4 linked regions of the Homo sapiens genome follow. The protein of the gene in region 3 purifies or fractionates together with the protein of the main gene of each other region. This does not show direct contact. Each region holds a gene or a part of one and is shown on either strand. Other genes may lie near its edges.

Region 1 (7,025 bases), on a different chromosome or scaffold from region 3:
TCATACTAACAGGTGAAGTGTATAAGGTGTCTGTGTGTTTTGTGTAGCTTCAGAGTTACATTGAAATTACCAGGCACAGACTTAGTCTTGTCATTTTGTTTACACATTGGGGAAAACAAATCAGTTTGTTAAACGTTTCATGTAACTGCACCGAAGTTTTGCCAACCTGGAAACTTGGATCTTTTCTGTGTAGTGACTTTTTAATTATAGTTTTCACAACCTGGAGATCAGACTGTTGCTTTCACATGATGTATGTAGTGTCTCACGACTGAAGTTTGCTTTGTTTTATAGTATCTGTACTCGTATTTTTCAAAAGCTATTTTGTCAACAGATGATGTATTTCTCCATTGAAAACACAACTAAAAAAACAGCACAATCTCAAAAAAAAATTATGAGATTTTTTGTGATTTTTTTGTTTGTTTAGCTTATCAGCTATCATTAGTGTTAGTATATTTTATGTGTGGCCCAAGACAATTCTTCTACCAGTGTAGCCAAGGGAAGACAAAAGCTTGGACACCCCTGCATTATAGGATCACGATACACAGTGTGAAAACACTGTTCTAGAGGATGGTCTATGAAAATAAGGAATCAAGATTAATTGACGTGGGACAGACCAAGGTAACTCCATGATGAGGTAACTCCATAAATGCAAATCTAGTTCATTAATTTGCATTCAATTCTTATCCCCAACCATATAAAGTTTCCCAAACCCTTAGAAAACTGTTTTCATCACATACAAAAATGCAGTGTCTCAACTGACTCCTCTCTTCTAAAAGGAGGTATGTTTTACTATGTGGATAAATAAAGAAGGTCTATAAATAAACACAGGTAGAATATATTTTAAATGAATAATCATCTTTTAAAATTTATGGTTTCTATATCTGAATATCAGATTAAAGCCTTAATACTTTACCTAAGGTTTATGACATCAGACGTCAATTATATCACGAATAAAATGATATAATTTCTATTCATATATATACCTGATTCTGACTTTTACTGTTCTCATCTTCATTGTCAAAGATAATATCACTTTCAGAATCTGAAGCAGGCCTGAAAAAGGGAAACAGAAATACTAAAGGAACAGAAATCCCTATTATCATTATAAACATGGACATTTTTAAATACTAGAAAGCACAAGAGGCTACAGACATCACACCATGAGCCCACAGGCATCAATGTATACTCTACACTGTGCTGATTTGTACTTGCTATTATGCAAAACACAGAACCCTTGATTTAATAAAAATTAGCCAGATTAAGTTTCCTCAAAAAATTTAATAGTGAAGAGTAATCATAAACTGTATCCACTTGGATAAAATAAAACAAAATCATGAAAGTAAACATCCAGGGTGGATTCTGAGAAGCATAAAATTTAGGATCATAATTATTGGTTTGGTACCTTTGGGGGCTGCAGTTGGCACTGTATCAAGACTCCAAATTAGTTCTTAAATGTTTCACAGGGTTGCAAGCCCTTATCCAAAGGAATGTCCTATGAGAAATTCTATTCAATGTATAAGATGAGGTATTGAATTTTCCTTTTTCCATGGCTTGGATTTTGGAGATCTTTTGAAAATAGCGGGAAAAAAAATCCTTTAGATTAGGGGTCCCAAACCTCCAGGCCATGGACAGGTACAGGTCCACTGCCTGTTAGGGCCGCACAGCCGGAGGTGAGCAAGCATTAAGGCCTGAGCTCCACCTCCTGTCAGATCAGCAGCCGCATTAGATTCTCATAGGAGCGCAAACACTATTGTGAACTGTGCACACGAGGGATCCAGGTTGTGCGCTTTTTCAGCAGTCATTATGAGACTCTAATGCCTGATGATGTAAGGTGGAACAGTTTCATCCCGAAACTATTTCCCTAACACCCGTCTGTGGAAAAATTGTCTTCTATGAAACCAGTCCCTGGTGCCTAAAAACGCTGGGGACCGCTCCTTTAGATTGCATTTGGTTACTCTCTAAAAGTGGTGGTTTTGTTTTGTTTTTGTTTTTGTTTTTAAACATGGTCAACACGTCTGGATTTCTAAATGAATCCCCTTTTCCCTGGCTTGGACTTGGTGGGGATTAATGTTGGGGGGCATTCGCTGGCCCGGGAGGCGGATGTTGCAGCCAAGGACGCGCCACTGACCTCCAGCCTGGGTGACAGAGCAAGACCCTATCTCAAAAAAGGAAAGAAAGAAAAGAAGGAAAGAAGGAAGGAAGGAAATGAAAGGAAAAAGGAAAAAAAAATAAAGAAAGGAAACTAGGGGGCGCATCAGAGGCAGCTGGTCCGCGCCGTGCGCTTACAGGAAGGACTGGGAGAAGACGCCACCGTGCTCGTCCTCGTCGTCGTCCTCGTCATCGCTGGAGCCCGGGCCGGTGGCGGGGAAACGGGCACTGGCCGAGCGCTCGCCCGAAGTGCTCCACTCCACCGAGCTGCTGAGGATGGGTGGCGGCGCGGCGGCCTCTACGCTGTCCAGGCCGTCTGTGTCGCTCGCCGGCTGCCCGCGTGCAGCTCGGTCATCCTTGGCCAGGGGCCCGGAGTCCGGGGGCGGCGTCCCCGGTCCCGCCGGCCGCTCGTGCCGCTCGATCCAGGCGTTGTAGTAGCGCACAATGTTCTCATGGTGCAGCCGTGACAGCAGTGTCACTTCGCCCTTGATCCTGCGGAACTGCCGGCTGGCCGGGTTGATGGGGATGCGCTTCACTGCGTAGCAGCAGCCGTCCAACTTGTTCTGCACCTGCGGCACAGCCAGGGGAAGGTCAGCCGCTCGGAGCCTTGCACAAACAGGCATTTGCACCGCACCCCATCCCCTCCCAAGGAAAGCGTGAAGTTCTAAATGAGTCCCACAGCTACAGTCAAGAACCACATGCCTGAAATTCTTAAACTGAAGAAAGCTTTGACTGCCACAAAATTCAGAAAACAGCCCACCCGACTCTAGATATATTTAGCTTGCTGGGAGACCCTGGGGAAAACATAATCTCCATTTTAATAATTAATTTTACTGACAGTTACCTCCCTGCTTTTCCAATGTATCTGCTATCTAAATTTCTAAGTGTCTTGATTTTAAGATTAAAAATTATTTTCTAAAGTCAGTGTAAAGTTTCAGATGATTTTAGTTTCTCTCTGATTTTTTTTTACACTTAAAGTCACTAAAAACAAATTAAACACCAAAAATATTAACAGACCTGAACACAAAGGTTAATTCCTTGATTTCTAAAGCCGTGTGAACTTGGGAAAATTACTTAATTTCCTTGAGACTCAATTTTCTTATCTTTAAAATGGCATTTATACCATTTCCACTACCCCAAATGGTGACTGTAAAGCACTTGTATCAAGGCCTCACAGAGAAAGGTGCTTAGCTTAGTCAATAACAGCAATTGCTATTAACACAATCACTGCCCATTGATTTTGTTATATACCTAAGATGATGTATACTGAAACCAGAACAATACAATTAACAACACAGTAAAATAATAAGAAAGCAAGAAAACGTTGCAAAGGCAAGTCCTCCCATCCTACATAGAGGCATCCTTATGCCAGGCAGTTTCACTATGTAATTGGGGTGACTGAAGTAACTTTTACAGAGTCTTATTCACTGAAACCTTGTAGTCACATCCGTGCAGGTCAACTGAGGTGATGATATACTCTAGAAAAGCAAATGCCATGTGGCCATGGGTGGCAGGAGAAATTAGTTGATTACAAAACACAAAACAGAATATCATTCTCTTGTTTGGCTCACAAGTTTCAATTAAACTAATAAAAGTCTAAGTGAAGTCCTGGGAATAAGAAGGAAGTACTACAAAATTGAGTTTCAGATTATCTTTTTTTGTATGGAAATAGTGACAAGAACACACACTTTGTAGTACAACAGAGGTGGGTCTGAATGCTGGTTTTATCTCCCTTATCTCAGGCAAAGGACATAACCTTCTCTGAGCTTCAGTTCCCTCATCTAGGGAATGAGGATCATACCCATCTCGTAAGAATGTCCTGAGATTTAAAGACAAGGTTTGTAAATCACCTGGCACACAATCTGAAATATGGCAGGTGCTCCAAAAAATGATAGCCCTGTGTTCTTTTACTGCCACATTAATAGGGAAGAGGACAGTGTAGGGCGGGAGGTGGGGATCTTGGCATTGCCTTTCGATCTCCTGTCTCAGTACACATCATATACGAACTGGGTTGGGAGTAAAGCTTGCTATACTGGAAACCCCTAGGAATTCATTTACTGAAGTGAAAAGGTGCAGAAACAGTAATGGGTCCAACTGCTAATGAATGCCAGATCACTGGGCAGGCTGCCCTACTCTGACACAGAAGCACAGAGGTAGGAGGTGAGGGCTGTGGATTCTCACAGGGAGAAACTACTGGAAACCGTGGGGGCTTAAGTTACTCAGATGTTTTTGTTATATGAGCTTGCCTATCATTATTAAGTACTTGTAAAGAGATGAAATTTGTTACTATTCTACGTTCAAGAATTTAAAATAGAATGAAGTTAAAGGATTTGATCAAAATGATATTGTGTTAAAGGGACAGTATACGCTTCAATCATCCCCTCCTCTTAGACATAATTATGATCTTTCTGATCAGGACATCTGTCTTGCTTGTCTGTCTTTTACCACAGGAAAACTAATTTAATTCCTTTTTTAGTGTAAAAGTTTTTCTACAGTAACAGTAATGCTTCCTAATGATACTCTCAGAATCCTTAACAGACAATATACTCAGTTGATGGTGGGTTACCTTCATATGTGAAAGATGACATGTACTGTATATGGACTTAATACAATAATCTGGGTCTCCTAATTTACAAAGAAATACTTCTATTATATAAAAACAGCTGAAACCTCTTTCTACAAGGGGCAGATAATAATAAAAGTCACCCAAATAGACTAGAACGAAGAAAGGAAGACCCAACAACAGTGTACCTTAATAATACATCGCTACTTTCCTGTCCCAATAATAGCTGGAAAATAAAAGCCATCGAGACCTGCTGGGGCCATCTCCCAGTTTGAAGTCCATCTCTCTTCTAACCTTAGAACCTTTTTATCTACAGCAACTCTAACAGCAAACAGGAGAAAAAAAGAACAATGTTCTTTCTGAACCAAAGCACACAAAAATGTTCTTTCTGTGGAGGTCTTGATTCCACTTGAAGTGCTGTTATAACCATGTGTGTTTCATGTTAATGCTCCACATGAAGCAAGGAAAGAGGAGTGGGACAATTCTCAACTGTGTCCAGCGTAACTTAAATAAAACCTTTAACTCCAGGAAGGTGAGGATGAGCATAGTATCCAACAGCCATATTCACTTCCCTCCCCACTCCCAAAATAAAAGTAAAGTCCATGAGTCTTTGTGGAAATGGAACAGAGAAGGAGCTCTAAAGGGGACTGGGAATGACTCTGTACCACACCTTGATGACAGCTCCAAAAGCTCCTTTACCAAGAAGTTGTAATTCTTCAAACTCAATGAAGTATCGGGAAAACTGTCTCTGTGTCTCACTAAAGAAGGCAGCACTGGGTAGCCGGTTGCTAGGAATAACAGTCTCAACATAATCTTGTCCTTCAGAATCTGAGATAAAACAGGGAGTAAGAGGCACATGAGGCATTGGAAATTTAGGAAGAGCTACATAGCCAACAATGATGGAAGCCCTGGAAGAAGAGCTCCAACCAGTAGTTTGAAAAATTACCTCTTACCTGAGTGGCCTTTTAAAACTTTTCCTCACCTTGCCCTCCTTAAAGTAGGCAGAAATATATAATTAGCCCAAGTTTACAGGTGGGGGATTATATAGAATAAGTGACTTAACTATAGAGCTAGAACCAAAACTCAGGTCTCATGATCCATCCCAATCTCTACCGAGGTTCCTTAATCTCAGGTGCAGCAGGAAAAATCTAGTTACATGGCACTATGGGTGACTAAACACTACAAGAGACTACAGCAATGGACATTCATTCCATCAATAGAGACTAGAAAAATCAGGGTGGCAAAACAGTCCCATGCACATGGCACACATCAAACTAATGGATTTAGTTCAGAATAAAAGACATAAAATAACACATGCAGCCCCTTCCAGTTTTTGGTTTATGTATACTTTCAAAATAATTTAATGTCAAACAGGTTACCAAATAAAGAAAGGTAACAGACTCACCTTCAGGACTTTGTTCCACTAGAGGCATTTTTGGCTGGGGATTTATAAAGCTGTGTTTCAACAACTGCTGGGGACTCCATCTTTCCTTGTCATCCAAGCACACACATCTCGGTGAGAGGGAAGGAAGAATCTTAGCATCACAAACAATCAGTGCTAAACTAGTTAATCCAAGGCATTAACTATGGGTTTATTTTTTAAAGATACACATTATAGAATTCATGTTACTCAAAGACCAGAATGTACTCTCATAGGTGAATTTAAATTAATAAACATTCCTGCAGGATTTACATGCTATGCGACAGGCTGGGTACAAGAGGCGAATCAAAAAAAGGCATCTCTAGATGAGAAGACTTACCCTCATGGAACAATTTTTTAAAAGTCTAAGGTAGCACAAGTAGGCTATAAATTTTCACCTCGATGAACAGTTTAATGCCTTGTCATGCCAAACTAAGCCTTTGCAGGAACCGGTTATAAATAAAGCTTTCGAAAGACAAAGCAAATCAGAGAGTTGGTGCAGCAGAGTGGCTCAGTATGACGAGCTTTAGATGAAGCCTGCTCATTACAGGATGAAGCAAGTTGGAAACATTTAGGGAAGGCTTTTTTAAAGTCCCATATTCTATTGCATACTTTTTTTAAAAATTGGTTTATGCTTTTTTTTTTTTTTTGAAATAGGGTCTTGCCGTATCGCCCAGGCTGCAGTGCAGTGGTGTGATCTCAGCTCATTCCAACTTCTGCCTCCCGGGCTCAAGCAATCCTCCCATCTCAGTAGCTGGGACTACAGGCAGGCACCACCAGGCCTGGCTAATTTTTATATTTTTTGTAGAGATAGGGTTTCACCACACTGCCCAGGCTGGTCTCCAACTCCTGAGCTCAAACAATCTGCCTGTCTCGGCCTCCCAAAGTGCTGGG
Region 2 (7,025 bases), on a different chromosome or scaffold from region 3:
ACCCTGTCTCTACTAAAAACATAAAAAATTAGCCGGGCGTGGTGGTGGGCACCTATAGTCCCAGCTACTTGGGAGGCTGAAGCAGGAGAATGGTGTGAACCCGGCGGGCGGAGCTGGCAGTGAGCTGAGATCGTGCCACTGCACTCCAGCCTGGGCAACAGAGCGAGACTCCGTCTCAAAAAAAAAAAAAAAAAAAAGGAGTCCATTATAATGATTGAGGACCCAGCTTTTGGAGTTGGACCTTGATTTAAATCCCAACCCATTACTTATCAACTGGGTTACCCTGAACAACTTAACCCTTCTGTGCTTCAAATTCTTCATCTGCACATGTGATTACTATCTACTTCACGGGATCATTTTAGTGATTTAGGTGAACTATTGTTAGACAGTAATTGCAAAGCACTGAGCACCATGCTCAACAATACATAATGAAGGCGGTATAGCAGCAGCAGCAGATACAACATCACCTATTTCACCTGCACCATGGGTTATTATCACATACAAATAAGAGGCAACTTTGGGAAAGTGGTCTGGGTACCTACAAATAAAGAATGACACATTCTTCTCAATGGAAAATGCCTTATACCAAAATCAAGGCCTGCGTATATTTTAAATAAAGTTATATGCATACAAACTTTTCTACATTTCCTATGTGTTCTATTGATTTCTAACATTTTTTACTAAAAAAAAAGACTCAAAAACGTTTTTAAAATACTGTATGTGGTACAAATGTGTATTTATATTGTAAACATAAATATAGATACACAAAAAGTATACATGCAGCCGGGCATGGTGTCTCACTGTTGTAATCCCAGCACTTTTGGGAGGCTGAAGCGGGCGGAACACTTGAGGTCAGGAGTTCGAGACCAGCCTGGCCAACAAGGTGAAACCCCCATCTCTACTAAAATACAAAAATTAGCCAGGCATGGTGGCAAGCGCCTGTATTCCCAGCTATTTGGAAGGCTGAGGCAAGAGAATCACTTGAAACCAGGAGGCAGAAGTTGCAGTGAGCCAAGATTGCGCCACTGCACTCCAGCCTGGGCGACAGAGACTCCCTTTCAAAAAAAAAAAATGGTACATGCAAATTCTATGATAGTGGTTGCCTATAAAAGGAAGGAAAGAAAAGAGACTAAGATAAGGTAGAAAGAAAACTTCAACCTGGGAAGTCTGTCCTATAACGTTTGATTTTTTTTTTAAAAGAAAAGATAAAAAGCAAATATGATGGAGGGTTAATATTTGTTAGTTCTGGGTAGTGGGGAGGTGGATGTTTCTTGTATTATCTGCATTCTTCTATAACTGTTATGTTTTCTAACTTAAATAAACATACCAGCCTCTCTCCCTAAACTTCCCAGTCAGTCTAATTATGCAGCAGAGAAACAAACAAACAAACAAAAAAACTATGGTGCATTTCTGATATCCTTAGGAACATATTGGACAAGTATTTTCCTTAAAGTTGCTTCATAGCTGGGCGCAGTGGCTCACACCTGTAATCCCAGCACTTTGGTAGGTCAAGGCGGGCGGATCACCAGAGGTCAGGAGTTCAAGACCAGCCTGGCCAACGTGGTGAAACCCCGTCTCTACTAAAAATACAAAATTAGCCGGGCATGGTGGCACGTGCCTGTAATCCCAGCTACTCTGGAGGCTGAGGCAGGAGAATCGCTTGAACCCGGGAGGCAGAGGTTGCACTGAGCCGAGACCACACCATTGTACTCCAGCCTGGGCAATGAGAGCTGAGATCACACTACTGCACTCCAGCCTGGGCAATGAGAGCTGAGATCACACTACTGCACTCCAGCCTGCTGGGCAACAGAGAGAGGCTCCGTCTCATAAATAAATAAATAAATAAATAAATAAATAAATAAATAAAATGTATTTTGAAAATAATGACATCTTTTATGCTTTTACCCAGCATATAAAACTGTACAAAGAAAACAGGCTAGGCCGGGCGTGATGGCTCATGCCTGTAATCCCAACACTTTGAGAGGCCTTGGCGGGCGGATCACCTGAGGTTGGGAGTTCAAAACCAGCCTGACCAACATAGAGAAACCCCGTCTCTACTAAAAATACAAAATTAGCCAGGCGTGGTGGCGCATGCCTGTAATCCCAGCTACCAGGGAGGCTGAGGCAGAATTGCTTGAACCTTGGAAGTGGAGGTTGCAGTGAGCCGAGATTGCGCCACTGCACTCCAGCCTGGGCAACAAGAGCGAAACTCCACCTCAAAAACAAACAAACAAACAAACCAAAAAAAAAACAGGCTTTATAAATAAGTCTGCAATTACAGGCTGGAGCCGCTGCACCCAGTGGCTCAAGCCAGCTACTCGGCAGGCTGAGGCAGAACTGCTTGAACCTGGGAGGTGGAGGTTGCGGTGAGCCAAGATCGTGCCATTGCACTCCAGCCTGGGCAACAAGAGCGAAACTCCATCTTAAAAAAAAAAAAAAAAAAAAGCAGGCTTTATGAACAAGCCTGCGATTATAGGCTTGAGCCACTGGACCCACTGCACCCAGTGAGTGCCTCAAGCCTGTAATCTCAGCATTTTAGGAGGCTAAAGCAGGAGGATCACTTGCACCCAGGAATTCAAGACCAGCCTGGACAACAGAGGGAGAGAGACCCCATTTCTTTTTTTTTTTTTGAGACAGAGTCTCGCTCCGTCACCCAGGCTGGAGTGCAATTGCATGATTTCAACTCACTGCAACCTCCGCCTCCCAGGTTCAAGCAATTCCCCTGCCTCAGCCTCCCGAGTAGCTGGGATTACAGGCGCCCGCCACCACACCCGGCTAATTTTTTGTGTTTTTTTAGTAGAGACGAGGTTTCGCCATGTTGGCCACGCCGGTCTCAAACTCTTGACCTCATGATCCACCCACCTCGGCCTCCCAAAGTGCTGGGATTACAGGCGTGAGCCACCACACCTGGCACAAGACCCCATCTCTATAAAAAAATTTTTTTTAATTAGCTGGGTGTGATGGCACACACCTGTGTGCTACTCAGGAGGCTAAGGTAGGAGGATCTTGTATACTTTATACATATAAAACTTTACCATATTAAAAAACCCTCTGGCTGGGTGTAGTGGCTCAAGCCTGTAATCTAGGCACTTTGGGAGGCCGAGGCTGGCAGATCGCTTGAGTCCAAGAGTTCAAGAACAGCCTGGGAAACACAGCAAAACCCCATCTCTACAAAAAAAATTTTTTTTTTAATTAGCCAAATGTGTGATGCAAACCTGTAATCCCAGCTACCCAGGAGGCCAATGTGGAATGATCGCTTGAGCCCAGGAGGTCGAGGCTGCAGTGAACCATGATCATGCCCCCTGTATCCAGCCTAGGTGACAAAGTGAGACCCTGTCTCGAAAAATTAATAAAACAAAATGAAAACAAATTTCGAAAAACTGACTTGAATTTTATTCAGAGTTTGGTACTTCCACACCTTGGAGATTAATTACTTCATTATATAAACATGGTAGTTAAGATTGATGAAATATTTCCAACTAAAAGAAATTTAAGAGGCCAGACGCAGTGGCTCATGCCTGTAATCCAGCACTTTGGGAGGCCGAAGGCGGGTGGATCACTTGAGGTCGGGAGTTCGAGACTAGCCTGGCCAACATAGCAAAACCCTGTCTCTACTAACAACACGAAAATTAGCCAGGAGTGGTGGCCCGTGCCTGTAATGCCAGCTACTTAGGAGGCTGAGGCAGGAGAATTGCTTGAACCTGGGAGGCGGAGGTTGCAGTGAGCTAAGATTGTGCGACGGCACTGCAGTCTGGGTGACAGAGCAAGACTCCGTCTTTAAAAAAAAAAAAAAAAAAAAAAAAAAGGAGCCAGGCGCGGTGGCTCACGCCTGTAATCCCAACACTTTGGGAGGCCAAGGCGGGTGGATCACGAGGTCAGGAGATCAAGACCATCCTGGCTAACATGGTGAAATCCCGTCTCTACTAAAAAAACACAAAAAATTAGCCAGGCGTGGTGGTGGGCGCCTATAGTCCCAGCTACTCAGGAGTCTGAGGCAGGAGAATGGAGTGAACCCAGGAGGCGGAGCTTGCAGTGAGCTGAGACGCACCACTGCACTCCAGCCTGGGTGACAGAGCGAGACTCCGTCTCAAAAAATAAAAATAAAGGAAAAGGAAAGAAATTTAAGGCCGGTCGCAGTGGCTCGCGCCTGTAATCAAAGCACTTTGGGAATCCAAAGCGGGTAAATTGCTTGAGTCCATGAGTTTGAGACCGGCTGGGCAGCATGGCAAAACCCCATTTCTACAAAAACTACAAAAATTAGCCAGGTGTGGTGGTACATGCCCATAACCCCAGCTACTGGTGAGGCTGATGAGGGAGGATATTTTGAGCCAGAAGGTTGAGGCTATAGTGAGCCACGGAGTTCAAGACCAGCCTGGGCAACAGAGTGAGGCTCTGTCTCAAAAAAAAAACTGCTCACTTCAGCAGCACATATACTAAAATTGGAATGATACAGAGAAGATTAGCATAGCTCCTGCACAAGGATCACACAATGTTTTTCAAGAATTCAAAAAGAAAAGAAAAAGAAATTTAAGAAAACTGGAGATATTAAATAGCCTTCAAAAGTTATATCCTAGTCTACTTTTTTTTGTTGTTTTTTTGAGACAGAGTCTCGCTCTGTCACCCAGGCTGGAGTACAGTGGCAAAATCTTGGCTCACTGCAACCTTCACCTCTCGAGTTCAAGTGATTCTCCTGCCTCAGCCTCCCGAGCAGCTGGGACTACAAGCGCCCACCACCACACCAGGCTAATTTTGTACTTTCAGTAGAGATGGGGTTTCGCCACGTTAGCCACGCTGGTCTCAAACTCCTGACCTCAGGTTATCATCCAACTCAGCCTCCCAAAGTGCTGAGATTACAGGCCTAAGACACTGCACCTGGCCTACTTTTTAATCCCTTTAGTAACCTTAATTTCAAAATAAAATAATATATAACCCACATACTTCCAAGTTAGTGTTTAAGTGAAATTTTCTTAAAACTTACAGAACATCTAAATGATATATTGCAACATTGTTTAGAACTATCAAAGAACTATCACTAAGCAAAAACAAGGCTTAATTTTAATTTTTTGTTGTTTGCTTGATTAATTAATATTAATACCACGACTCTTTGAAACATGGCCAGTGGAAATTCTTTGAGTATTAGGATCTCAAAATTTGTGTCAAACAATGACTACATTAACTCTCAAACATACATCAAGCATAACAATCACAGAAAATACATATAATAAATTTAATTATATATTTTAATATAATTTAATTTTAACATAATTTAATACTCTTCAGGTTTTAAAATGTCTCTAAGGAACCTAAAATGGCTCTCCGTTGTGTAATACATCAAGTCTAAACTGTATTTTGAAGGCCCTACACACAAATAGTACTCAAATCTCTTCTACCAACCCTCTCTTTGGTATAGCTTTAAACCAAGTGTTTTCTACTAAAATCTAAAAATAAGTCTCCTGACAATACTTGGCACTGTACTTGACACTCCTTGAAAACTCAGCAGTCAAGGCAAAGTTCTACCCTAAGTAAAGGCATACCTACAGGCCAGAAATTGAGTCTTCTTTTTTAACATATTTTTTCTCCCTCTAAGGAAATGTTAGCTGGTTTTAGTCAGTTGTATTCTTAAATTACATTGCCTGAAATTATATTCTCATGCCTCACTTGCTAAAGAAAAGCTGTTGCCTAGCTCAGTGGCTCATGCCTGTAATCCCAGCACTTTGGGAGGCCAAGGCGGGCAGATCATGAGGTCAAGAGATAGAGACAATCCTGGCCAACATGGTGAAACCCCATCTCTACCAAAAATAGAAAAATTAGCTGAGCATGGTGGCACGAGCCTGTAGTCCCAGCTACTCGGGAGGCTGAGGCAGGAGAATCACTTGAACCCGGGAGGCGGAGCTTGCAGTGAGCCAAGATCTATCTCGCCGCTGCACTCCAGCCTGGTGACAGAGCGAGACTCCGTCTCAAAAAAAAAAAAAAAAAAAAAAGCTGTCTTTGAAGAATCCCCACACTTGAAACAAAAAGTAGCTGTTCTAGGTGGTAAAGAATTCTAAAATGTATTTATACCAGCAAAAAACTAAAACCAAGAAAAATTAAGTCCTCTTTGCCAAATTTCTAATGCTACTATCATAGTCCATGTTCATCTTGAAATGTAAAACTTGTATCTACTTATATCTATCCTTATAAACCACACAACTCACTAATCTCCAAAACTTTCAACTCATTAATGTCCAAATGTTTCAGACCCTCAAGAATCTACTCACATTTACCATTAGACATAAAATCGCAAATCCCTTTCCTAGAATTCAAGGTCCTCCCTTTATCTAAGCATCCTCTTACTACTCTGTACCCCAGTAAGAGTTTCCTCCCTGTTTCCCAACCATTCAGTCATAATTTAGACCTTTTGCCCATACCATTATAACCTCATACCACTCCTTCATAGGGAATGACTGCCCTCTTGCTTTCTACCAACTGTCTACCTGTCCACTAACGTCCAACTCATTATACTCCTTCACTAGGCTGGACGCAGTGGTCCGAGACGAGCCTGGGCAACAAGGAGAAACCCCATCTCTACAAAAAATTTAAAAATTAGCCAGGCATGATGGCATGTGCCTGTAGTCCCAGCTACTTGGGAGGCTGAGACAAGAGGATAGCTAGAACCTGGGAAGTTGAGGCTGCAGTGGGTGAGGGAGCTATGGTGATACAATTGCACTCCAGCCCTCCCAGCGTGGGTAACAGAGCAAGACCTTGTCTCAAAACAAAAAACAAACAAACAAAAAAACTCCTTCCCTAATCTTCCCCAGTCTCCTGAAGGAAATCAGAAGTGTACTGACAATGAGCCGCTATCACAGCACTGTCCAATACAGTAGGCAACAGCTGCATATGGCTACTGAGTACTTGAAATGTGACTAGTACAAATTGAGATGTTAAGTATAAAAGGCACACCAAATTTCAAAGACTAAGCAATAAAAAAGAATGTAAAATATCTCATGAATATTTTTCACATTGATTACACATTGAAATAGTAACAT
Region 3 (7,025 bases):
AATCATGGGGACAGGTCTTCCCCATGCTGTTCTCGTGATGGTGAATAAGTCTCACAAGATCTGATGGTTTTAAAAACGGGAGTTTCCCTGCACAAACTCTCTCTTTGCCTGCGCCTTCCACATAAGATGTGACTTGTTCCTCCTTACCTTCCAGCATGACTGTGAGGCCTCCCTAGCCATGTGGAACTGTAAGTCCATTAGACCTCTTTTTCTTCCCCAGACTTGGGTATGCCTTTATCAGCAGTGTGGAAACAGACTAATACAGTGATTATTCTTTAAAAAAAAGAATAATTTTTTTTTTAAAGAGGCAGAGTCTCGCTCTGTAGCCCAGGCTAGGGTGCAGTGGCTCAATCATGTATAGCTATAATCTTGAAGCCCTAGGCTCAAGTGATCCTCCCACCTCAGCCTCCTATGTAGCTGGGACTACAGGTGTGTACCACCATGCCTGGCTAAGTTTTGTATTTTTTGTAGAGAGAGTCTTGCTCTGTTGCCTAGGCTGGTCTGGAACTCCTGGCCTCAAGCAATCCTTCCCTCAGCCAGCCATTATTCTTAACAGTTTACAACCTCATCCCCCCAGGCCATATCTGACCACCGCAGACAAACTTATGGCTAGAACCTTCCTGGGGGGCCGTTCCTACAAATCACCTGGTGGGCGCTAGAGCAGCACACCTTTCTGGTCAGGCTCATCACCCACCCTCTGAAGGCTCAATCTCTCAAATGTTTGTTTCTTCCCTGCTGATAGGAGGTGGCTTACAGGTATCCCAGAACCCCTCAGAACATACAACCCTCCCCTTTACCAAGATAAAGGCAAGTGGCTCAGGCCTGGGCTCCTGGTGCCTAGTCAGACAGGGGCCTGGGGGTGGGTCTTTCTGAGACTTCTGGGGTCTGGGCACAGGGCTGGGGGCAAAACAGGAAGTCCTCAGCCTAAGCACTCTGGCTGAAGAGCACATGATTGAGAGCACGCACTCTGTGCAAACCTGGCCCTGCCAGTCACTGCTGAGGGACCCAGGGCAGGTCCCTTAACTCCTGAGTGTTTCCTCATTTGTAAAGGGGGCCGGTCATGGCACCAGCCATAGCGGATGTTTAAAGAGCAAAAGAGGCCACGCATATGTATTACTCTGCCCTAGCCAGGAAAGAGGAAGAGTCTGGGGGCGATGGTGAAGGGTGGGTCACCCAAGGACCACTCCCCAAAACTACCCAGGTTGGGGGTGGGGAGTAGGTGTGTTACCTGGCCTTGTCGAAGTATTTGCCGGTGTAGGCCATCCCACAAGCGGCCCCGAGGCCCTGGCCCAGGGAGCCAGTGGCCACGTCGGTGAAAGCTTGTTTCTGTCATAACAGAAGGCCACCGTTAATCTGAGAGGAGAAGGGATCCTGGTCTCACCCGCCTAGGGAGCCACACTCCCACCCAGCCCAGCAAGCCCTTCCTCTGCAGAAGGTCAGGCCCCAGGATGGCCTCTACCTAGCATGTGACTTCTTCTCCTAATGAACTAATTATAATTATAGGTTCAAATCCCAGCCCTGCCCACTAGCCAGCTATGTGGCCTCAGGCCTCAGGCAAGGGACTGAACCTCTGTGAGCCTCAGTTCCCACATCACCCACTTCACAAAGTGCTGGGAGAGAGAATCATGAAAAAATTGACAGAACATTTGCCCCTCGTGGGGACCCAGACCATGTGACAGTTTTTGTGGTAATCCATGAAGTCTTAACGTTTGCAGGGATGCCAGATGGCACCCCAAGGAACAAACTGGGTCCCTTCCCCAGGGTTTCGCCAGCATCCTGCAGCCACTCCCTTATCGAGTCCCCTCTCTTCCCAAGCTGTAGCTACCTAGCCAAGGAGGCCCAGTGCAGAAGGGTAGCTTGGGGAGAGGCCCTCCCTGAAGTCATCCCAGAGCACCCTGGCTGAGGCCTCAGAAGGCCTTCCCCTTTGGCACCAGCTTGGGTTGAATACGTGTCCCCAAAACACCTGCTTCTTTCCTTCCTCAACTCAATGCCCTCCTCCGCCTTTCAACACCTTTGGCTTCTCAGTGGGCACCCCCTACCCCCGTCCCACATGTCTGGGAAATAGGAAGTGGAGGCAGAGGCATGGGAGGCTCTGGCAGGAGCACTTACCGGGACCGGGTGCCCGTCCAAGTCGGAGCTGATCTTCCTCAGGTTCAGCAGCTCCGCCTCGGCCAGGAAACCAGCTTCAGCCCAGACCGCGTAGAGGATGGGAGCTGCATGGCCCTGCCGGGAGATGGATGGTGGGGTGAGGTCAGGTGGGGAGCGGTTCTACTTCGGGCTGTGCCTACTTCACACTGACCCCTGGGGCCCGGCCGAGCCGGCCAACTGCAGCATCCATTTCAGGGGAGGAAGCAAGTGAAGGCCACTTCTCCCCTTTCAGCCCTCTTCAGCCTCTTGGTTTTCAGCCCAAAGTTCCCACTGCCAAGGCCAGGCAGGCACTAAGACAGGTGCAGGGGGCACAGCTGTGAGGCTGGACGAAGCCAAAACCCCAGCAGGCAGCCGGCTGCCCTAATCCCTGGTTTGTGGCATGGGAACAACTTGGACAGACTTCTAAGCTCTAAAGCCTGCCCGAGAGACCAAACGCCACGGAGGCAGGCCTGAGCACAGGTGGATTTCAGGGATCTGTGGCTGTGATTCCACCCAGAAGGGGGGGGTCAGGGGGTCCCCATCCAAAACCCTGCTACAGCACACCACCACCCCGAGGGGGCAAGCCGTGGCCTCGGGAGCGCTGGCACAACACAGATAGAGCAGGTAGGGAGCCACAACCCAGACCGAGATGCCAGTCCTGCCTGTCAACACCCAGACTGGGCAGAACACACAACAGATGTTTCCGTAGTCCCCTACTCCATTTCTTTGAGTTAAAGCGTTGTTTATGTACCTGGGCTCCATGGCAGAGCAACCCATCAATTCAGTCCTGTATTCCTTAGCCAGCTGGGTCAGCACAGAGCAGGACACTGAGGGAGAGGCCAGGACGAGCAGGGAGAAGGCACCTGGGAGAGGTGGGCCCAGCCAGGTCTCCTCAAAGACCACTCACCATTCCAGGGCCCGTGTGACCCTAGTCCCAGGCAAGGTGTGGCTGGCAGTGGGCAGCTGGGCTCTTACCTTGGAGAGCACAAAGCGGTCATTGTGCGGATTCCGGGGGTCCTGGGACTTGTAGCGCATGGTGTGGAAAAAGAGGACAGCCATGATCTCTGCGGCGCTGCAGCATGACGTGGGGTGGCTGTGGCCCAGGAGAGAAGACAGACACAGGCATCATGGCCCTGCACTCCTGAGCTATTGTGCTCAGCTGTACAGGGACCTGGGGGTGCATGTCCTGAGGAGTCACACAGGCCTGGCTTATCAGACAGCCACGAGCTCTTGTTCCCTGGGAGGGTGACACATGGTCTCAAGAAGGCCACTCCTGGCAGTTTGGGGCCTGGGCCAGCTAGTGGGTGCTGGGGACTGTTGTACCTTTCCAGGGGCATCAGATCCTCAGAATCACGGCAACTGAAAATATCTGGGGTTGGACTTGAGTAAGAAGGAAGGAGGGGCCCAGGAGAGATCTAGCACAGAAGACTCAGCCCAAGGCTAGCACTGCGGCTGGGGGCAGCTGCTGTCAGGTAGAACCCAGTTCCCACCTAGTGGCCCCCAGGAGTCTAAGGACTCAGCAGCCAAGGGGTGCCGGCATTCCTACGACTGACCCCACATCCTGACAGGACTGCCCGGACACTGCCCACTTGTGAAGGGCACCCTGCCCTCTCAGCACCCAGGGGTGCTGGGCCTCTGAGCCCATGGGGCAGGGAGGAAGGGACTGAGGCTCATGGAGTTACCACAGACCTCCCAGCAGCCTCCACGCATGGGGTGTGGTAGCCTGAAAAACTGGGCCTTGGGCTTTCCAATTGCATCACTGGGCTACTTGAAAGCTTTAGAAATGGGCAGTTTGAGGGCTGCTGTAGCAACTAGGAAACAGGCTTTTGTGTAGAATTTTCAAAGCAAGACACATAATCTCATCTCCTACAAGGCTACAATCATGTATTAATAAAAACCCCTTCTGCCTATGGACAAGGGCTGAGGAAGGGCTGACAAAGCAAGAACCTGCCTTCCAGCCTGGGAGTGGTGGGGCCACGGAGTCCCCTTGGCTTTTTAGACTTGTTTTAATCACTGAGCGGCTCCTGAGCAATAGAAAGCGTAAACTTTCTATTGCTTCCTGCTTCCCAGCAGGAAGCGCTGCAGGTCCTGATCAGCCCTGAAGCCCTCTGGTCCCAGGGTTTTGTTAAAAGTTCAGCCTCAGGGCACAGGCCTCCCGGGAGGGCCCCTCCACATGCAGCTCAGCTCAGCTCAGCTCAGCCCTCTCGCTGCTCCCAGAGGTCCTTCACACGAAGACACGCCGCATGCCAAGCCCAAGGGCACATGCACCATCTGGAGCTCACGCCGCCAGCCTCCCGCCCCTCCAATCAGCGCTCCCACCAGGTTAGGGGTGAGTCACGCTCAGTGCAGACAAGTTAGTAGTAGAGAAATCCAGAAAACTGTCCATGCTGGTTTAGTACCAACATTCTCGCACACGATCATCTTATACTTAACTATTTCTATGAACTCCCGGTCATGGGAAAAGACACTACACCTGAAAGAGGGAGGGGAGGACATGGTAAACGAGAAACCCTTTTCTGCCTGGCAGGGACCCTAATCCCACGCTCCCAGTGCCAGCTTCAACTGGAGGCCACCCTAATCCCACGCTCCCAGGGCCAGCTTCAACTGGAGGTCACCTCAGGCTGACCTCTCGTCCTTCCCACCTCCAAGGGCAGCCCCGGCCCTGAGGGGTCCTGTTTCTAAAGCCATGGTCCCATTAGGAGGGATCCTTGGTGGGAGAAGGATGTGGGTGGACACTGGGCCAAACTGTTCCGGGGAAGAACAAGGACGGTAAGTGCAGGGCTCCACCTGCCCCATCCACCTCGACACCCCGGGGTGACAGTCCCATTGGCCACCAGAAGGGGTTCCAGGGAGAAATGGTGTGGCACAGGCTCTTTCTGTGTGTGGCAGAAGCACACCCAGGCCCAGATAGAGTAAACGTGGAGAGAGGAAGGTCAGCTGCGAGGTGACCAAGGGTGAGAAGTAGAACGTGCAGCTGATTTTAAGCCTTCCTTGCTAGGCCTGCAGCCTTTCATTCCTTCCAAAGGCTGCATCCAGCCTGCTGCGGCCACTCTCTTCACTTCTACCAAGTAAACACGCACAAAAGAAGAACGCTTAGGAGCCAGGTGTCCCCGCACTCTTCCCCAGAGCTTTTGGGGCTCTCCCTCGGCAGAGCATCCTGGGTTGGGGAGGTGAGCTGTGCCACTTGGGCTTCGTGACTTCAACAAGTGCTTCGTCAACCCGGGGCTCAGCTTCTTCACTTGGGAGAGTGTCTGGGAGACACAGTGAGATAACGCAGCATGCACAGTACCCAGGTCTCTAGCAGCCGCCACCACTGCCAACCCTCTCAGCACCTGCAGCTCTTATCTACAGGCAGGGATGGTGACACCACCCACTCCTGCTGGCCACAGGCAGGCAAGAGGGGAGAAATACACCAAGGATTGAGACCGGGCTCTGCACACTGTAAAGCACTGAGCACACAGGAGACAGTTACTTTCAAGCTCAACTTCCTAGCGGGCCTTTGGGGCCAAAGGCATACATTTAAGCCTGTGGCCTCCTCAGGGCCAGAGTTTTTCCTGCCATTCCAGACTGCCTGCACAACTGCAGGTGGACGCCCCATCCCGTGGTGCTGTGTGTGACAACTCTGGGTGAACACTGGCGAGAGATGGGGTGAGGAGCACGGTGGAGGGGCTACAGGGTACTTACTGTATACCCTGACTCTGTGATAAACAGGGCTAACAAGCACACTTGACTGTTCAAAAAAAAAAAAAAAAAACTAACACACCCTGCCTTGACCAAAACAGTCCACTTACAACCCCAATTAGTTCAACCTGTGACGGTGGTGTGGCAAGCTTAGAGCTAGGCCCAAAGAAAGTCTCTTAAAGCCCCCTCCAGGCTGGGGGCAGTGGCTCACACCTGTAATCCCAGCACTTTGGGAGGTCAAGGCAGGCGGATCACCTGAGGTCAGGAGTTTAAGACCAGCCTGGCCAATATGGTAAAACCCCATCTCTACTAAAAATACCAAAAAATTAGCCAGGTGTGGTGGTGGACGCCTGTAATCCCAGCTACTCGGGAAGCTGAGGCAGGAGAATCACTTGAACCTGGGAGCCAGAGGTTGCAGTGAGCCAAGATTGCACCATTGCACTCCAGCCTTGGCAACAAGAGTAACACTCCATCTCAAAAAAAAAAAAAAAAAAGCCCCCTCTCCACTCCCCTCCAGGACAATATATATTCTTCCAGATGTCCCCTGGCCAGGAGAATCTCTGTCATCGCTTTAGTGCTCACTCCACCTGCTCACAGGTTTCTATGCAAGAAAAGGCCAGAGAGGCTCCCTCACCCTCCAGATGGGCTCCTTCAAGAGATAATGGATGTCAGGTTGGGCGCGGTAGCTCACACCCGTAATTCCAGCACTTTGGGAGGCCAAGGCAGGCAGATCACCTGAGGTCAGCGGCTCAAAGACCAGCCTGGCCAACATGGTGAAACCCCGTCTCTACTAAAAATACAAAAATTAGCCGGGCGTGGTGGCACATGCCTATAATCCCAGCTACTTGGGAGGCTGAGGCAGGAGAATAGCTTGAACCCCGGAGGCGTGGGTTGCAATGAGCCGAGATCATGCTACTGCACTCCAGCCTGGGCAACAGAGTGAGACTCTGTCTAAAAAATAATAACAATAATGAAAATAATTTACCAAAACTGACTCAAGAAGAAATAGAGAACCTAAGTAATCTTTCAAGCATTAAAAATAAACCAGATCAGTAGCCGAAGATGCACATCCCTTAACTCCCAGCAACTTCACCAGTAGGAACATACAGTGAAATGTACTCACATGTTCCACACATTCTACAGGAAACACAAACAGGCCGGGCACAGTGGCTCACACCTGTAATCCCAGCACTCTGGGAGGCTGAGGTGGGTGGATC
Region 4 (7,025 bases), on a different chromosome or scaffold from region 3:
ACAGCGCTGAGTCCCAGAATGGGCTGGAACTCACTTCCTAAGATAACACTTGGCTCTGGGTGCTCCTGGGTGCTGTACACTCATCATTTTGCTCAGAAAAATAAAGCCACAGCTTCCGTGTACTGCCTACCCTTCAGACCCAACTCCTCCCCACTCCCCGGTCCATTCACAGACGGGCGTCAATACCCATTTCTTCACACCACCCAGCAGCACACATCAGGGGTTCAACACCCCTGCACACGAACATGGACACCGAGGCCCACGAGGTGCTGAGAACACAGCGCTCTGGGGTTCCCAGTTGCAACATCCAGCTAGATCAAAACCAGCAGGACTCATAGAGAAGGTCTTACAGGTCTCTTCAAGTTATGAGATAATAAACTCATTATCATTGAACTTCACCAATGTCAAAAAAATTCTCAAACTTGGGCTTTGCAAAGTGTTCATAATCTGTCTGCTATAGTGGTAAAAGCATTCACTTTTCAATAAGACCACCAGGGGCTTGATTCATGGTTATGCTGCTTTCAAGCTGTGTGACCTTGGGCAAGTTACCTAACTTCTCTGAACCTCCATTTCCTCTTTTATAAAATGGAGATACTAAGAACCACCTTACACGGCTGTAGTGAGGACTAAATTAACATGCAGGGCAGTTGGCATAAAATAGATGTTAATAAGTTCCAGTTTCCTCTCTAAAATTGGAATTAACTGCCCATAATTCTAATTTCTAGATGTTAACTAAAGACTTAATTTTAAGTCTTAAGCTTGCCTTAATTTTATTCACTATCACAGAGTAGTTTATCCAATGGAATTAATTAAACTTCTGGCTTCCTTAGGAGTACACCTATTGAAACGTGCCTCTCTGAGCAGATAATATATCATTTAGTCTCTTATCCCCCCTTCTGCCAGCTTCCCAACTAAACTTGAAGGGCTTTGACAGCAGGGACTATTCCAGTCACCTCTTTACTTCCCATGGTGCCCGGAACACTGCAGGTCCCCAGAAAACAACCCCTAAAAAGAGACAGTAGACGAGGAAAAGGAAGACCACATGCTTAAGGTTACAGAGAGGATTGTCAAGAAATAGACTGAGGTCCTGTCTGAAAGCATTTGGATTAGCATTTAAAGCCCCAGGTGTACCAAATAAACACATCTGCGGCTTTAATTTAGGCCCCTGGGATGCCACCGCTGTTAGAATTCCAGAAAACTAATTAGCTAATTCCCACTGCCCCAGGTATTACCTGAACTCACTTTGTTGTTTTCTGCTCCAAACAAAGCCAGAGGGGCCAGAGGAGAGCCCTTCCTATGGGCATCAAAGTACAAGATGTGCGCTTTGATTCTTTCTCCATGAACACACTGCTGCTCAGCCGCCCCGTGTCTGTTCTCTCTTCAGTTTACTCTTAAGCCAAAATCAACTGCTCCCTCTTCTGCCCTCCCCCCGCCCCAGCACTTTGCTCATACTGCACCCTCACTGGGCTCTGGGTTTGTTCTCCCTGGGGCCACAGGGAGTGTGTCAGTGTCTACACCTCCCCCAGGGACTGAGTTGCTAAATGCAGCAAGGAAGCTCACCCATCTCCCCTCTTCCCCTCGTTCCTCTCAGAGCCCAGAACAGTTTCTTACGGGAGAGTGGATCTGCAAGGGAATGGCATTGACTCTGCCGATGATCCCACGCTGCAGATCCTACTCGACCACCACCCAGGCCACCCCAAGCTCCAAGAGCAGATGCAGCCGGGGGCCTTCGGGGTCTCAGGGCTCAAGTACAGATAGCCAGGTCTCTCCCAAGCCACACATGGACAGCTTCTGGCCTGTTCTATGCCTGCCCTGTGAGAAGCAAAGAACTTTCCTCTTCCAGAATCAGGATTTTGCCTTAAACAAAGGTAAATGCTTACATAATCTGAATTGGATCCTTGGCAGAAATATTTCATTACCACTTGTTGCTAAGGGTGAAACTGAACTAGACACAGTTCCTGCCCTGAAGAACCTCACCGAGACACAGGAAGTGCAGGTCAGCAGTGTAATGCAAAATAGAAGAGATGGGGGCAAGAAGGCCTGGAGGGAAACAGAGAAGGGAATGGAAAATTCTATCAGGTCAGTCTTGGCGGGCCTCATGGAAGGCTCAGTCATCAAAGTTGAGTACAGGTTTGCTGTCTGAAAAGAAGGGGCTTTCCAGGCAGAACGTATACAAGGCATCGGCTTGACCCAAGGGCGAGACACCTATTGTGTGCCTGGGCAACACAGGTCCTTCCAGCATGAGGTGTATGCAGGGACAGGGGGTAGGAGGGCAACGAGGGGCCCGTTCAGCCTAAGCCCTGCTAAGGTGTTTGAAATTAACCACGTCAAGCCACCAAAGGAGTTAGGCAGGGCTGATGAGGCTGTGTTTGAGATTCCTGCGGCTTCCTAAGGAAGGCTTCTAGGAGGATACTGCAATAGACCAAGACTCAAAGAGGACTAAAGACTGCCTCTGTGCAGGGTGAGTAGCACGAGGAGCCTAGCTGACCTCGGGCTTTGGAAAGAGTCGGAGGCAGTGGTGGTCTCACTGTCATAGAGAAGAGTAGTGCATGGGGGTCTGAAGAGAGAGCTGAGAGGTCACGATGCCAAGTGTTCCGATCCCCATGGCCCCCCTCTCACTTGCCATCCACTCACTCGCGGATGCCCACAGAACCCGCCTGTGCACAGAGCCTCAAGCGGTGTGATACCCTCTCCTCCAGAAGGATCCATGGCAGAGAAGGAAGGGCCATGGTCTGGAGTCAAGTCTATAAGAGCAAAACCCCAACCCTGGCTTCCTGCCCGGCCTCCCTTTCCCTTCCCTTTCTGCCTCACTGCCTCCATTCTGAATCACATCCAAAACACACCACATACCCTCCCACCTGGGGTTCCATCTCCTTCTGGGAGATGGCCTTCTCCTAGAAGCCCTGCCAACCTGGCCCTTCAGGGCCACTACCCTGGCCAGCCACAGGGACATGACCCCACCCCAAATCTCACTAGAACACCCCAAATTCCAGACATCACTGACCCATGCTCCCTCCTCTTCTAACTTCCCTACAACTAAATTCTAACTGGAAGAATTCCCCAGCCAACACAGAAGCATGGTGACTTACTTCTGGTGAGTCCAAAGTTTGAGAAAACAAGACTTGAAAAAAGCAACACTCTCCGGACTGCGTCCTCAACCTGTCTCACTTTCAACAGCTGAGGAAGGATGGGAATGGGGTGCTCCAGTAATGTGGCAATAGTCAGCCCCCAATATATGACACGGCAATAAACGCATTGAGACTGCAGGATGGTCTCCTATAAACTCTTTGACGGTCCTCCCAGCAGGAAACAAGACATCATTCTCATGTAGATTTCTCCGATTTTCCCTAGAGGAACTCATAAACTCCACAGGTGTTACTGAAGGGAGAAAAGCTGGGCTGAGAGGCGACTGGTGTCTAATTTGTTTGTCTCTCCAACTCAGACTGCCTGGCCCACAGCCACAGCTCAGCCCCGAGCTGCTCTACATCTGTGCACAGAATGTCAGAGAGTGTTTCTTTGGAGAATATCTTTAAGTGCTCTCAAATGGAACTACAGAGCCATCAGCTATGTCCCCTCCGATTGCAGTAAGAACTGAATGGAAGAGAAGGACCTTCAGAATAAAGCCAGGGAAGCAGAAACCACTGAAAACCTTCTCTCTGGAACCAACCAGGCAGGGCCCAAGCAGTGTTTTGAATCTCCTTAGCCTATCATTCATAAGAACACAAACTAATTATCTGCAATCCCTTTGGATATCATTTCAAACAATAAAAATAAGGACACCCGTTCATTAAGTGGACTTGTCTCGGTTTACTGCTCCCCTGCACCTTATTAGAAGGGCCAATGCTTTGCCATTATTCTGCTGAACACAGGCCACAGCTGTCTTCGTAAGTCAACACAAACCTCTCCAACCCCCAAAGCAGGTGCTCGCTTGCAAAGTCAAATAAACCGTACCTTACAAAAAGCTGGTCACTTCAGGCACTCCACAGACCAACCAGCCAAGAGGCTAAGCCCAGCAGAGGTGGAAAGTGTGCAGGGGCTCCCGCCTCCTGGGCTGCGCCTTTGATCTGTGCCTGGGGATGGAAGAGGATGCGTGGGGCGCGTAATGCCCTGCTGTGCAGAGCCTGGCTCGGGTCTGCCTGACACCCAGGCTTCCTGGCCCCTGCCCGGCAGGGAGAGGCAGCCAAGCCAGCCAGGGGAAAAGTTTCAGAGCTAGTATCTGCTCCCAGAGCTACAACAACAACCAAAAAAAAAAAAAAAAAAAAAATTCAGCAGTAGCCCTTCCAACTGGAGCTTCATCTGCCCCAGCGCCTGCCGGGTCAGATGGCAAATGCCACCGTTTCGTGTCTTCTTAGCCCTGAAGTGTTTTGCTGGGTCACAGTGCTCTCCACACAGGTACATACCAATCTGTCTAACCACCAACAGTTAAACTGATTCTTTTTAAACTACATGGAAGTTTGTGTACTTGGACTGGAGCCACAGTACGCTGTGCAAAGAACAAAGGGTCAGGAGAAGAACACAGGCTTTGTGGTGGAAGACAGTCAGCTGGCAGCCTGGCTTGCCTCCGAAGGACTACAGGTAGCGTGGACCTAAGCCACATAAGCGAGCACGTGCCCCTTCAAACAACTCTGCTGTGAATACCATGGAACATGCCCCAACAACAAAAACCCCCTGGAGAGGCCCAGGAAATCTTCAAGAAAACACCAGCTATTGGCTGGGCACAATGGTTCACACCTGTAATCCCAGCACTGTGGGAGGCCGAGATGGGAGGATTGCTTGAGCCCAGGAGTGGGAAACCAGCCTGGGCAACATAATGAGACCACATCTCTACAAAAAATAAAAATTAACTGGCTGTGGTGGTGCACACCTGAAGTCCCAGCTACTTAGAAGGTTCAGGTGGGAGGATCGCTTGAGCCCAGGAGGCAGAGGGTGCAGTGAGCTGTGATCGCACCACTGCACTCCAGCCTGGATGACAAAGTGAGACCCTATCATAAGAGAAGAGAAGAGAAGAGAAGAGAAGAGAAGAGAAGAGAAGAGAAGAGAAGGGAGGAGAAGGGAGAAAGGAGGAGAAGAGAGGAGAGGAGGGGAAGGGAGGGGAGAGGAGGGGAGGGGACACGAGGGGAGGGGAGGGGACACGAGGGGAGGGGAGGGGGAAGGAAGGAAGGAAAAGAAAGAGAGGGAGGGAAAAAGGGAGGGACGGAGGGAGGAAGGAAGGAAGGGATGGAGGGAGGGAGGAAGGGAGGGAGGAAGGAAGGAAGTAAAGAAGGGAAGGAAGGAAGGAAGACGGGAAGGAAGGAAGGAAGAAAGGAAGGAAAGAAGGAAGGGAAAGTGAGAGAGAGGGGGAGGGAGGAAGGGAGGGAGGGAGGGAGGAAGGAAAGAAAGAAAGAAAGAAAGAAAGAAAGAAAGAAAGAAAGAAAGAAAGAAAGAAAGAAAGAAAGAAAGAAAGAAAGAAACACAAGCTCCTGTCCAGAGCTCTCTTTACATCCCTGTTGCAATTGACTCTTACGAATCCAGGACTCCTGATCAAATCCTAATTCAAAAAGGAAAGAAAATAAATCATGAGAGCCCACTCCAATTGTGCAAATACCTTTAACTTTGCTTTTTCTCTTCTTGCTAGGATCACTAACTTCCTGCAAAAGTGACTTGAATATGACCCAGAGGGTTCAAGGTCATTTATCTTTTGTAAAAAAAGGTTAAAGAGGTGGATTACTCCTCTTGGTGCCCCAGTCAGGGAGGAGAGTTCCCAGCTGTTCCTGGGCTCAGTCCCCAAAATTGCCAGGCGCTAAAGGGTAGAACTTGTGTGGTGGGCTTCTTCGTTCCCAGGCTGGGCAGTGCCTCCCTAGAAAGGGCAGTGGAGACCCCACCCATCCCTGCACCTTCATCGCCAGGCAGGGGTGGCACCCGCTGGAGGTTCTGCCCGAGCGAGCATCTGCAGCTCTGAAGCATCCCTAGTGCCAGGGCTTTACTCGTTGGGGAGGCACACTGTACGCGGTCTGTACGTGGAGTGCCCCGTGCCTTCTGCCACTCAGGGCACCGTGTGTGACGGTGGGAAACTGGAAACTAACAAAATACCCAGCAAAAAATGCATACTTAACACAGCCTGCAATAAATGCATAAAAGCTATGTGCATGAAGAGTTTGTCAATGATGCAGACACACTTAGGATACAACATTCAGCAAGATACATTTACTGTATAGAAAGATAGGTAGATCCTGCGGATAATTTTAAATTCTTATATATGAGATCATATATATTAAAATACATGTATGTATTTTATGTTAAAATAGTATATTTTATTTATAAATATATAAAATTTATATATTATTATATATTATATAAATATCATATATTTATCTAATATATGATATTTATGTAATATATAATATATAAAATATTTTTATATTTTTATATAATATATAAACTTATAACATGTTAAAATAGTATATACTATTTATTATATTTTTAGAGAAGGGAAGAGAGTTTAAGCAGTAGAGTTTTTAAGATGATGGGCTCTGGAGCCAGGTTTGGGTTTGAATCTTCACTTACTGGATATTAGACCTTGAGCAAGTTACTTAACCTTTATGTGCCTCAGTTTCCCCAACTGAAAAATGGGAGAAAAGTACTTGCTTCTTAGAGTTGTGTGGATTTAATAATTAGTATGTATAGGGTGCTTAGCATGGTACCTGGCACATATATAATATTATACATGCCAGGATAATAGTAACAATTCTTACCAATATGAAGCTTGCCACCTGTGAATAAATAAATTAAATGTGTAAAAGGGACTGAAAGAAAATGTCGGCCGGCGCGGTGGCTCACGACTGTTATCCCAGGACTTTGGGAAGCCAAGGCAGGCAAATCACCTGTGGTCAGGAGTTCAATCCCAGCCTAGCCAACATGGTGAAACCCCATGTCTACTAAAAAATGCAAAAATCAGCCAGGCGCGGTGGCGGGTGCCTGTAATCTCAGTTACTTGGGAGGATGAGGCAGGAGAATCTCTTGAACCCAGGAGGAGGAGGTTGCAATGA

The links.
Region 1: the proteins of TKT (region 3) and EIF2AK4 purify together in Homo sapiens (affinity purification with mass spectrometry; 2 studies listed by BioGRID and IntAct, with this or other methods). This does not show direct contact.
Region 2: the proteins of TKT (region 3) and TRAPPC8 purify together in Homo sapiens (affinity purification with mass spectrometry; 2 studies listed by BioGRID and IntAct, with this or other methods). This does not show direct contact.
Region 4: the proteins of TKT (region 3) and GREB1 purify together in Homo sapiens (affinity purification with mass spectrometry; 2 studies listed by BioGRID and IntAct, with this or other methods). This does not show direct contact.

The regions. Positions count from the first base shown.
Region 1 is NC_000015.10:39,972,106-39,979,130, reverse strand, and holds part of EIF2AK4 (eIF-2-alpha kinase GCN2), read right to left. Parts: intron 6,224-7,025; coding exon 6,117-6,223; intron 5,540-6,116; coding exon 5,382-5,539; intron 2,718-5,381; coding exon 2,287-2,717; intron 1,054-2,286; coding exon 984-1,053; intron 1-983. UniProt on the Homo sapiens protein: Metabolic-stress sensing protein kinase that phosphorylates the alpha subunit of eukaryotic translation initiation factor 2 (EIF2S1/eIF-2-alpha) in response to low amino acid availability.
Region 2 is NC_000018.10:31,933,124-31,940,148, forward strand, and holds part of TRAPPC8 (trafficking protein particle complex subunit 8), read right to left. Parts: intron 3,329-7,025; exon of another isoform or gene 3,298-3,328; coding exon of another isoform or gene 3,216-3,297; intron 1-3,215. UniProt on the Homo sapiens protein: Plays a role in endoplasmic reticulum to Golgi apparatus trafficking at a very early stage. Maintains together with TBC1D14 the cycling pool of ATG9 required for initiation of autophagy. Involved in collagen secretion.
Region 3 is NC_000003.12:53,239,023-53,246,047, forward strand, and holds part of TKT (transketolase), read right to left. Parts: intron 3,221-7,025; coding exon 3,103-3,220; intron 2,224-3,102; coding exon 2,110-2,223; intron 1,327-2,109; coding exon 1,229-1,326; intron 1-1,228. UniProt on the Homo sapiens protein: Catalyzes the transfer of a two-carbon ketol group from a ketose donor to an aldose acceptor, via a covalent intermediate with the cofactor thiamine pyrophosphate.
Region 4 is NC_000002.12:11,537,035-11,544,059, reverse strand, and holds part of GREB1 (protein GREB1), read right to left. Parts: intron 4,242-7,025; exon of another isoform or gene 3,952-4,241; intron 3,456-3,951; exon of another isoform or gene 3,383-3,455; intron 1,375-3,382; exon of another isoform or gene 1,233-1,374; intron 1-1,232. UniProt on the Homo sapiens protein: May play a role in estrogen-stimulated cell proliferation. Acts as a regulator of hormone-dependent cancer growth in breast and prostate cancers.